Linked DNA regions of Homo sapiens. The protein of the gene in region 3 purifies or fractionates together with the protein of the main gene of each other region. This does not show direct contact. Each region holds a gene or a part of one and is shown on either strand. Other genes may lie near its edges.

The links.
Region 1: the proteins of CAPN13 (region 3) and KCTD7 purify together in Homo sapiens (affinity purification with western blotting, with the first as the bait; one study listed by BioGRID). This does not show direct contact.
Region 2: the proteins of CAPN13 (region 3) and PPP1R10 purify together in Homo sapiens (affinity purification with mass spectrometry; 2 studies listed by BioGRID and IntAct, with this or other methods). This does not show direct contact.

The regions. Positions count from the first base shown.
Region 1 is NC_000007.14:66,631,855-66,635,507, forward strand, and holds part of KCTD7 (BTB/POZ domain-containing protein KCTD7), read left to right. Parts: intron 1-1,420; coding exon 1,421-1,590; intron 1,591-3,653. UniProt on the Homo sapiens protein: May be involved in the control of excitability of cortical neurons.
Region 2 is NC_000006.12:30,610,634-30,614,286, forward strand, and holds part of PPP1R10 (serine/threonine-protein phosphatase 1 regulatory subunit 10), read right to left. Parts: intron 1-3,653.
Region 3 is NC_000002.12:30,751,843-30,755,495, forward strand, and holds part of CAPN13 (calpain-13), read right to left. Parts: intron 2,523-3,653; coding exon 2,448-2,522; intron 1,357-2,447; coding exon 1,211-1,356; intron 1-1,210.

The DNA.
Region 1 (3,653 bases), on a different chromosome or scaffold from region 3:
TAGATGCCTGGAAGTATTCAACACACAACTACTGAGCTCTGCTGTGGGCAGCCCATGATTGGTGACCAAGATGCTTTCCCTGTCTTTGGGAAGCTTGGGGTCTAGTGGAGTGAATTGACAGAGGGAAATAATTGGCGATGTATCGTGCTAGGTGCTATTATAGAGGAGAATATGACACACGGTGAAGGCACAGTCGAAGAATGTGTCATTAACTCTGTCCTAGGGGCAGGTGAGGGACAGTAGACAGAAATGCTCACAGATGAGGGGAACTTGAATAGAAATTTCTAGAATGAGTAGATGCCACTAAACTGTATGGTGTGTTGGTGTGAATTAGAAAAAGGGCACATAGCAGGCCGGGCGTGGTGGCTCACGCCGGTAATCCCAGCACTTGGGGAGGCCAAGGCGGGCGGATCATGAGGTCAGGAGATCGAGACAATCCTGGCTAACACGGTGAAACCCTATCTCTACTAAAAATACAAAAAATTAGCCAGTCGTGGTGGCAGGCACCTGTAGTCCCAGCTACTCGGGAGGCTGAGGCAGGAGAATGGTGTGAACCCGAGAGGCGGAGGTTGCAGTGAGCCGAGATCGCGCCACTGAACTCCAGCCTGGGTGACACAGGCTGGGACTCCGTCTCAAAAAAAAAAAAAAAAAGAAAAAGGGCACATAGCAGATGACTCTCATCCAGGTGCTTTTATGCAGTGAACAACCTATAACACTGTATGGGTCCATTTAACTTGCCATATAGACAGAAGAAGGAGACTGGTAAGAGCATTTTGGGCAAAGAAGACAATGTGAGCAAGAGCACTAAGATAGTAAATTCAGGAAGTGAAAGGACACTGAAGGCTTGAGCTCTAGAGCAGCGATAATGGAGTTGAGGTGGAGAGACCTGATTTAAAAGCTATCAGGGGGCCAGGCACAGTGGCTCATGCCTGTAATCCCAGCACTTTGGGAGGCCGAGGCAGGTGGATCATGAGGTCAGGAGATCGAGACCATCCTGGCTAACGCAGTGAAACCCCATCTCTACTAAAAAAATATATATATATATACAAAAAATTAGCCGGGTGTGGTGGAGGGCGCCTGTAGTCCCAGCTACTCCGGGAGGCTGAGGCAGGAGAATGGCGTGAACCCGGGAGGCGGAGCTTGCAGTGAGCCAACATCACGCCACTGCACTCCAGCCTGGGAGATGAGTGAAACTCCATCTCAAAAAAAAAAGAGCTATGAGGGTTAGAATGGGTAGGACTTGGCAGATGATGAGGGTGGGGCAGAGGGAGGAGAGAGAAGAAAGTGTTCAGATGGACCCGTGGGCTTGAGTGACTGAATGAATGGTGTGGCACCAATCAGACCCCAGGGATTGAAGATGGAGCAGCCCCAGCTCTCATTCCCCGTTGCCTGCCTGAGAGCCCTGGTGATTTCTTTCCAGTTTCCTGAGGTTGTTCCCCTTAACATCGGAGGGGCTCACTTCACTACACGCCTGTCCACACTGCGGTGCTACGAAGACACCATGTTGGCAGCCATGTTCAGTGGGCGGCACTACATCCCCACGGACTCCGAGGGCCGGTACTTCATCGACCGAGATGGCACACACTTTGGGTATGTCTCTCCCTCTACAATCAACTTTGTAGTCCTAGCAGGTGATTAGCGTAGGCTTGAGTATGGGACCTTGATATCTTCCATAGTACCTAGAAGAGGAGATAGCATATTGATGAAATTTAATAAATGGGTTTATTGAAAGAGATCAATTTTTTTTTTTTTTTTTGCCAAAGGAGACAAAGACAGCCAGAGAAATTCGAAATAACACACTGGCTGGATGAAATTGCTTCAATCATAGACAATTAAACAATTTTTATTTTCAGCTCTGCGCGGTGCTCATGCCTGTAATCCCAGCACTTTGGGAGGCTGAGGCAGGTAGATCACTTGAGGCCAGGAGTTCCAGACCAGCTCATTACAGCATGGTGAAACCCCATCTCTACTAAAAATACAAAAATTAGCTGGGTGTGGTGGCTCATACCTGCAATCCCAGCTACTCAGGAAGCTGAGGTCGAAGAATCGCTTGAACCCAGGAGGCAGAGGTTGCAGTGACCCGAGATCACGCCTCTGCGCTCCAGCCTGGGCGACACGAGATTCCATCTCAAAAAACAAAACAAAATTTCATTTTTATTTATTTATTATTTATTTATTTATCTCATTATACACCCACACACACAGATGTACACATACATGCACACATATATATATATGTATATATGGGTGTGTGTATACATATATATATATATATATATATATGTATATATATGAGCTCTGATGCACTGAGGCTTCCACTGGTCTTGATGTGTGTGATTCTATCTATCTATCTATCTATCTATCTATCTATCTATAAAAATAAAGATAGGATCTTGCTGTGTTGCCCAGACTGGTCTCAAGCTCCTGGCCTTAGGCAGTCCTCCCACCTTGGCCTCCTAAAATGCTGGTATTACAGTATTTATTTAAGTTTTAGGTGTTGTTTTTTTTTCGGGGGCTGTTTTTTTGGAGATAGGGTCTTGCTATGTTGCCCAGGGTGGAATGTAGTGGTTGTTCACCAGTGCCATCATAGCTCACTGCATCCTTAAACTCCTGGCTCAAGCAGTCTTCTCCCTTCAGCCTCCTGAATAGCTGAGACTACAGGTGTGCGCCACTGCACCTGGCTGTCCTATGCAATATGAGACCAGGAAGTTGTCATCTGTGTGGAGAGGAATAAGTGTAATCCCACATAGGGGGATAGTCTAAAACAACATGGAGAGTACCTTTAGACCTGGATTTTGGGGCTCAGCGTTGCCATGGGAAGGAGGCATGGTGTGTAGCAGTGGTTACCAGACTTCTTTCAGTAGTTTAAAGGAATAAAAAGAGATGGAAGACTGATACAGTGTTGTTCTTTAATTTTGCCAAGGAAAGTCTTTAAAAAAAAAAAAACCCTCTGTTGTTCTTGTCACTTAACACTAAAATGTGGAAAAACACAATGTCAACAACAGCAAAATAGCAGCCAGGCGTGGTGGTACTTGCCTGTAGTCACAGCTACTTGTGAGGCCGAGGTGGGAGGATTGGTTGAGCTCAGGAGTTGGAGTCTGCAGTGAGCCATGATCCTACCACTGTGCTCCAGCCAGGGCAACAGAGTGAGACTGTCTTTTTTTTTTTTTTTTTTTTGAGTCAGCGTCTTGCTCTGTTGCCCAAGCTGAGTGCAGTGATGCAAGCACAGCTCACTACAGCCTTGACCTCCCAGGTGCAAGCAATTTTGCTGCCTCAGTTTCCCAAGTAGCTGGGACTAGAGGTGCACACCACCACGCCTGGCTAATTTTTGATGTTTTTTAGAGATGAGGTTTCACTATGTTGGCCAGGATGTTCTCGAACACCTGGACTCAAGTGATCCTCCTGCCTCAGACTGCCAAAGTGCTGGGATTACAGGCCCAGCCTGTAGTTTGTGTCCGGCCCGGCCGAGACTCTGTGTCTTAAAAAAGAAAACAAAACCTTTCCCAAGAAAGGACTTCTGACAGTCTTACATGTAAACAATTTAAAGACTTTATGTCTCAGGGGTTCCATGTTTGTGAAATGAGAAATAATTATAGCTGCTGCACAGGCTTGTCAAAGAGGATTATATAAAGAGCCTTGGTGTGACCCCTAGC
Region 2 (3,653 bases), on a different chromosome or scaffold from region 3:
TTGAATAGACTGTCACTCATTAGCCAAACACTACACAAGTTTTTACTGTCTCTAAGTTAAAAGGAAGCTAGTGGTTTGTGCTTTCAAAAGCAAAGATGCGAATCTGGTCCTCTCCTCAAAAATCACGCTGTACAAGATCCCCTAGGAAAGCCTAAAACTGAAAACCATGGAACCTAAAAAGGGAACAGATAAAGCCAAATGCTAGAAAAATTCCCTTTTAAGCAGCTGTTTTAGACCAGGTTGGGAAGGGAATTAGTTAAAAGCTAAGCTCCTTTTATGGAAGGGACAAGCCAGAACTGAAGTTCCAGAAAGGTAATTTAGGATCAATATGGTTCTGATTGGGATTTTTATCTACACTGCCTCTAAATACTTGCTTCTAAGACCCAAAAAAGAGGCTGGGTGCAGTGGCTCATGCCTGTAATCCCAGCACTTTGGGAGGCCAAGGTGGGCAGATTCCTTGAGCGCAGGAGTTTGAAACCAGCCTTGGCAACATGGCGAAACCTCATCTCTACAAAACATAAGTCGAGTGTGATGGTGTGCACCTGTAGTCCCAGCTACCCGGGAGGCTGACGTGGGAAAACGGGAGGACTGCTTGAGCCCAGGGATACTGAGGCTACAATGAGCTGTGATTGTGCCACTGCACTCCAGCCTGAGAGACAGAGTAAGACGCTGCCTCAAAAACAAACAAACAAAAAACCACCAAAAAAGAAAGCCACTTCAGCAATATCTGCCTTTGGGCAATAAGGCCCACACTGAGTAGCAAGGAAGAGGCAAGAACAAAACCTTCCTCATCCTACATCTAGCACAGAAGTAACAGACACAATCCCAGCAGAAGGGTAGAAAAATCAGTATTTTACAAAGATGAGTAGTTTTGTGCCGGAAAAAACACAGGTTTCTTGTAAGACAATGCAAATTAGTTCTACTTGTTCTCAAACAAAAGAAAAAACATAGCATAACAATCTCAGCCTTTTTGTCCTCCCAACAAAAACGTCAGTAAGTTTCCAAATGTGTAGGTCCTAACAACCTAGGCGAGCAGCAGCAGAAGCAGGGAGGAGGCAGCCAGGAAGGGTAGGAGTATAATCTTGGCTCTGGAGATCATAACCTGTGGGCTGAACAGAGGGAGAGATGAGGCAAGAAATGTTGAGAAGTCGCTGCTGCCCTGGAACCTCCACAAATACAAGTGGAACCTGAGGTCAGAGAAAAAACATTCAAGGAGAATACTGGAAAAGATTAGATGTCCGTGGGCCAAATCCACTCAAGTGTGGTGATTCCTACACACACAGAGACAGACACAGAAATAAAGGTATTCTTCCCATGTAGTGAGATACTATAAAGTGATCTATAGAAACTATAAAGAGATACGATAAAGGGACACATAAAACAGATATCACATCTGTTGGAGACTGGAAAAGCAATGTATGGGTTCCAATAACAACATATCATAAGCAATCAAGAGACTAAGAAATTTTTAAAACTCCCTCTCTCTATATATACACACATACCTACCATTAGATTCCTAAAGCAAAATATATGCAATTTGACAAAAGGCCTTGAATTAAACATCATTTCAAACCAGTTACCCTTGACTGATTCAAACCCAGAGTTGAATATATATAACCCTGGAGAATTCCTTTTTGCATATCCAACTACAAGCTAAGCCAATAAATAGACCTACTACCCCTATTTCCTTCAGACACTAAATAAACTGTCATCTGAGCTCAAGTGTTCCTTAAGAGGATGGGAGACAAGAAAGAAGAGCCAGTCTTAGAAAAATGGACCAATGAGTACAAAGCTAAATTCTGTCCAGTGCCCTCTGCTGGAAATGGGATCCAGGGACTTTTTTATTCCCACATGTATAAACAAGAATAAAAGACATTAATAGTCAAAGGGAAGCTAAGAGACAAAGCAAAATTAGCGTTAAATATTCATTTTCCACTACTTATATTTTGGAAATATAAGTGAAATTTTGTCTCATGAGCACCAATCTTGATAAAATGTAAGTGGGTTTTCTCATGATGGCCTTCCTTCAGGAAGATTAGTTCTTATTTAAAATTAAGGACCCCAAGTGTCTTATAACCTAGTTTCCTTGCTTTGAAGTCAGTATATTTTGGAAAAAAACCAAACAATTTCCAAGGCGCTCAAGTGGAAAGGAATGTAAAGTCCAACATTTCGGGCACAGGGCTACAGCAGAGAAGGCAAACTGAGTTGATGAAGGCAGGCAGGGGCCGTGACTAAGTGTTGTAACATTACCTACTCAAGATCTGGAGTCTAGAATGAAAGCTTAAGAAAGCTTTCTGGAACCACAAGTAATCCACGGCATGATTATGTCTTCTTTTAATGAGCTGCTATTTTCTTGACTGCAGAACATACAGAAGGTGGGGAGTGAGGTAGCAACCCCCTGGCCTACCTCCACCTCATCCTAAGCTATGCGTTCCTTATGGAGAATGTTTCAGGCAGAGCCATACTCTACTGGCACAAGGCATTGGGGAATTTTCTACCATTTTTACCAGAGATAAACGTCTGTGACACCAACTCCTGCCTTCAAAATGAATTTTACTTGAGGGTTATTCAATTAAATAGGGTGAAAAAATATCCAGCATAGCTAAAGTTATTCCACACCCATCACCAATGAAACAGGACTGAATTGGTTCAGGATAAAAATTCTGTGCAAGTCAGAGCTCTTTAAAAAATAACTGTCTTCTAACAAAAGGAGAAAAAAGTCCCAAATTTACCTTAATTTAGAGGCACTTCTGGAAATGAAAATGATTTGTACCTAACCCCTTATGTTCCCCTTCCTTTCTTCAGTGTTTTAGGCACTTCCTAGTTTGACACAATAGTGGACTGAATTATGTCTCTCAGGTGATTCATCACAAGGTCATAGCTTTCTTCCAAGTAGTAAGCCCCTACCCCTCAGTCATTTTGCAAACCTGATACATGAGCTCCTCAAAAGCTTATCTGCCTTCCAATAAAGATGCAAAATGATATACCACCCTGACTCATAGAAAAAGACCCCAGACTAGAACTCTGGCCACAAACTACAAGGATCAGGTTTTCCAAGATTTTCTGAATGGATGTGGTTCCCCTAGTAGACCTGGCTTCCCATCTCCCATGTTAAGGAAGATCTTCTTTATTAATCCCCTGGCTCACTAGAGATCAGGAACCCCAGTGGGTAGAATGTTCAGCTCCCAAGGAAGATATGCTGCAGAGGCACATGGCAAACTGCTTAAAAGAAAAAAACAAAACAAAACAAAAAAAGCTTGTAGTCAACAGACATGTGAAGAGTCCCTCCCATCCAATCCAGAAGCTTAAGTAATAATTTGAGAATCTGTACCCAGTAGGAAGTTAGCCCTAAGTCTCACCCAGGTCACCAGAGGGCAGTTATACTTTCCAATTCTGCCTAGAACCTCCACGCTTCAGTGCAGGACTTTTAAAAATTAAAATTATATGGAGAGTCTGATAAAGATTTGACTTTGAAAAATTTGGGGGAAGAAAGGAACCAGACACCCAATACCACCCTCAGATAGGGCATGGCTTCTGAACATGCACCAAATGCCACAGCACTGCATGAGTTGAAAAATGAAGAGGACATCATTTTTTCATTAATGCTTTTAGGAATTTCTTTTAGAAGGGAAGGAAAAAGAAATTCAAAAAAG
Region 3 (3,653 bases):
ATAGCATGGACGTGCTGCGAGGACTGGAGAAGATGGTGCATTAAAATGCATCTGCAGCACATAGCAGGTGCTCGATCACTGGCTCTCTTTTCTTTTTCCATTGTAACGTATTACTAAAAATGGCCCTGATGTAAAGGTTTTGTTAGTTCATTGACAAGCATTGTATCCAGGGGAGAGGGCCTTGGCCCTATAATCAGAGAGGTGCAGCTCAGGAAGAGGAATCAGTAAATTTGCTGCCCAAGAGTGACTCAACAGCTCTTGAGGTTCTGCCCAAGACCTCCTGGTGACAAGGCTCTCTGGGCAGAAGTTCTGTAGATCACTAGAGCCTGGAGGTAAAAAAGAGGGACACCCTGGGTTATGGGCTCATTCAAACCAACCATCCCGACAGGCAGGTGCCCAGAGGAAGGGATGCATATGCATCCCTGGGTGCAAACACACAACAAACACACTCACACACACAAATGCATTGTTTACGCAGCCTCTTTTATCAAAGATATATAAGCACACTCTTGTTCGTCTTCACAGGGAGCTATTTCACTCAACAATGCCACAAACAGGGAATGAGAGGGACAGGGAGGGAATGTGACTTTCCCAAGGCCATGATCAACAAGATTCATCTCAGGGGAGCTCAAAGACAGGCTCAGATGCGCCTACCTGTGGGACTTCAGCAGGGACATACCTGCCAAGACAGGGCAGGGATAGTCTCCCTTGTGTCTAGGTAGTGCTCTCTAGGCTCAAGGACAGACAAGTATGACTATTTCCACTGCTGAGTCTTGGGGAGGCTGAGGACAGGGTGACCAATTATGTTTCCAGCATCACAAGGCCAGTATGTGGCAAAGACAAGGGTCCAACCTAGGCCCTGACACTTTTCCTGTGTTCTTTCTGCAGCGCTCTCCCTTGTCCTGGACATTTACTGGAGGGTGGTGAGCCCACTCTCCTCCCAGGAAGCGGGAGGGTGTTAGTGGAAGGATATTGGCACAGCATGGAGGGCTAGGGGAGAATCACATCAGAGATTCTCCAACTTGGCCCCTACAGCAATCATTTTACTTAGAGGAGCAGTCGCTGTCTCTTCATGCTGACAAACTCCCCTCCTTTCAGCTTCAGGCTCATGGTCCAGAATCAAGGACCAGAGAGAGCTGAAGCCATGCAAGGGCTGGGCTGGGGCAGCCAGCTTCCAGTTGGGCAGTGTGACCACCAGCGTCATGATTACCTGCAGTGTTTCCTAGAATCACTTGCTTCCTAAACATTATTTGGGACCATCCTTCGTGGAGTGTGTTTCCATGGTCCAGGGTAATTGGAATTTCGCTACATATAAACATGGCGATGAATTTCTGTTGGAAATCTTGACACGACATCCTGTTAAAAACAGATATACATCACTCAGTGACCAGGGGTTGTGTCCCCAGGGTGGGGGTTCCTATGACTTCACAGCATAGCCACTGTCCTGCCCAGAGGCCAGTGTCTGATCCTGGCTCATTCACCATCAAGCACCCTTCTATCTTTTCAGTCCTTCTGCTCCAGTGGCTGGGAGGGCAAGGCAAGGACACAGTCAAGTTCTGGGGTCTGCCGGTCACCTGGCAGCAGCTTTATCATTTACTGCCATCTCCTTAACCCATTGATCCGATGGTGAGCCCTTTCATGATCAGTGGGACGACGGCCAGTCTCTCTCTGCTCTGGGTCCTCTAAGCTGCTAGGAAAATTGCTTTTCCCCTAGGGTGTTTTGCCAAATTTATTGTTGAGGTCTTTATCAGCCTAAAATGGATTCCACACCTAAAATCCCACCTCCTACTGTGATTAAACCAGAGATACTGGGAAAGATTTCCTTCTAATTTATATTTGTCCCTCTGATTCTTAATTATTTAGATCCATGCTCCTTTCCACACATGCTAATTTCCATTGAAATGCATCACTCCGTAAACCAGACAACCCTCTGAGGAATGTACACGTCATGCTCTAAGATGTGAGCATATGGCCGAGAACGTGTTTTCAAAACATCTAGTCCTGTGTGACTTCTGGGTGATGAAGTCCATGTCTCACCCAGAGCTATAGAGTCTGCATCCTGCTGCTGTTTTTGACGTCATGCTAGAGGAAACTGGGGAGCTCGAGGGTCCCAGCAAGATGGTACAGAGGATATGGGCATGACAACCATGCATCCTAGCTTCCAGGAAACCACAGATTTCAAGCCTTTGGTGCCAATGTTCTCTTTTACTATTAAAATGTCCTGGAAAGTTCAGCATTTCATAACTGAAATAACTTTCCCACCAAGAGGGAGCCTACAATAATTTTTCATCCAAAGTTTTTGTGTCTTGGTAGAGAAAATAGGCTCCCTCTAAACAGGTCTCTGCAAAGCTATTTTCCACCTTCGTAAATGTTCAGGGAAAAGGGTAGGGATTGAAGACTTGGGCAATAAAAGATTTAAAACACCATTGTATAAGAAGGGTAAATACCAAAACTCGCCATCTTCCCGTTTCTTATGTAGCTGGCTTTTCCGCGGATCACAGGTTTCCTCCCACTCCTGAGACCTGAGCATGGACACACAAACCACAGGGTGAGATTTTCCAGTGCATTTTTTCTCAACCATGTGTGGGTCAACAGGGACCCTCTGTACATGTCACCATTCCTGGGGAGCACAGGGCAAGTGTCATCCTACCTAGGACAGGACCCAGTTATTCTCTACCTGTTGACGACTTCCAAACATCTGTCCCCAGCCTGGTCTTCTTTCCTGAAGTCCAGATGGATTTATGCTGTAGTTCACCCCACATTTCCAAGAGAGTCCCATAGTGACCTCAAATCAACCTGTCCCTGACTGTACCCATCCTCTGCCACCTCCTATTGCCTGAGCGAGAACATGAGGAGTCCCTCTCTCACACCCCCACATCCAAACAATCATCAAATAGCATTCATTGATTGATCCTACCTCTTACACCCCTCTCAAAGCCAGGCACTTACTTCCATCCTTCCTGCTGTTACCCTAGTTCAGGCTCCCTGCCCTTCCCTCTGGATATCCACCTGGTCTCCCTGAACTCAGTTCTGCCCACTTTCCCATCCGTTCCCACACTGCCATTGAAATGATCTTTCTAAAATGTAAACTTGATTATATTATTTCCCTACTTAAAACCTATCAGTGGTTCCATATTATTCTTAAGGTGAAGTTCACACTCCTTAAAGAGAACTTTGTCCTCTGCCACCCTCTCCGATGTTACCAGTTTCTTGCTTTCTCACCTTACCCCCACTCTTGAATTCTACTCTCCAGCAATAGTGTCTTCATTTCCTTAAAACACCACCCCCCCAAGCCCAACTTTCACCCTGATGCTCCCCCTGCACCTGGCGCCCTCTTCCTCCTCTCAGTTCTGTAACCTGCTCTTACTCATCTTTCCTCTTAAAGGGCATTGCCTCTGGGAAGCCTTGCTTGGCCCCCAAATGCCCTCTATTCCAGGTCTTTTGAGCTTCCATAGCCCACTGTGTTACCATTACTTTGTGTATTGGTTGCTATGTCTCACTAGACTCCCAGAACCATGAGATTCCTGAGCCTGGCTGGCCATCCTATCATCACAGGTGTTTTGCCCATGCCTTGGCATGTATTAGGTGGGTGCAAAAGTAATTGCATGCCTAATAGCATACAGTGATTTTTTGTTTGCTTAATTAATTAATGC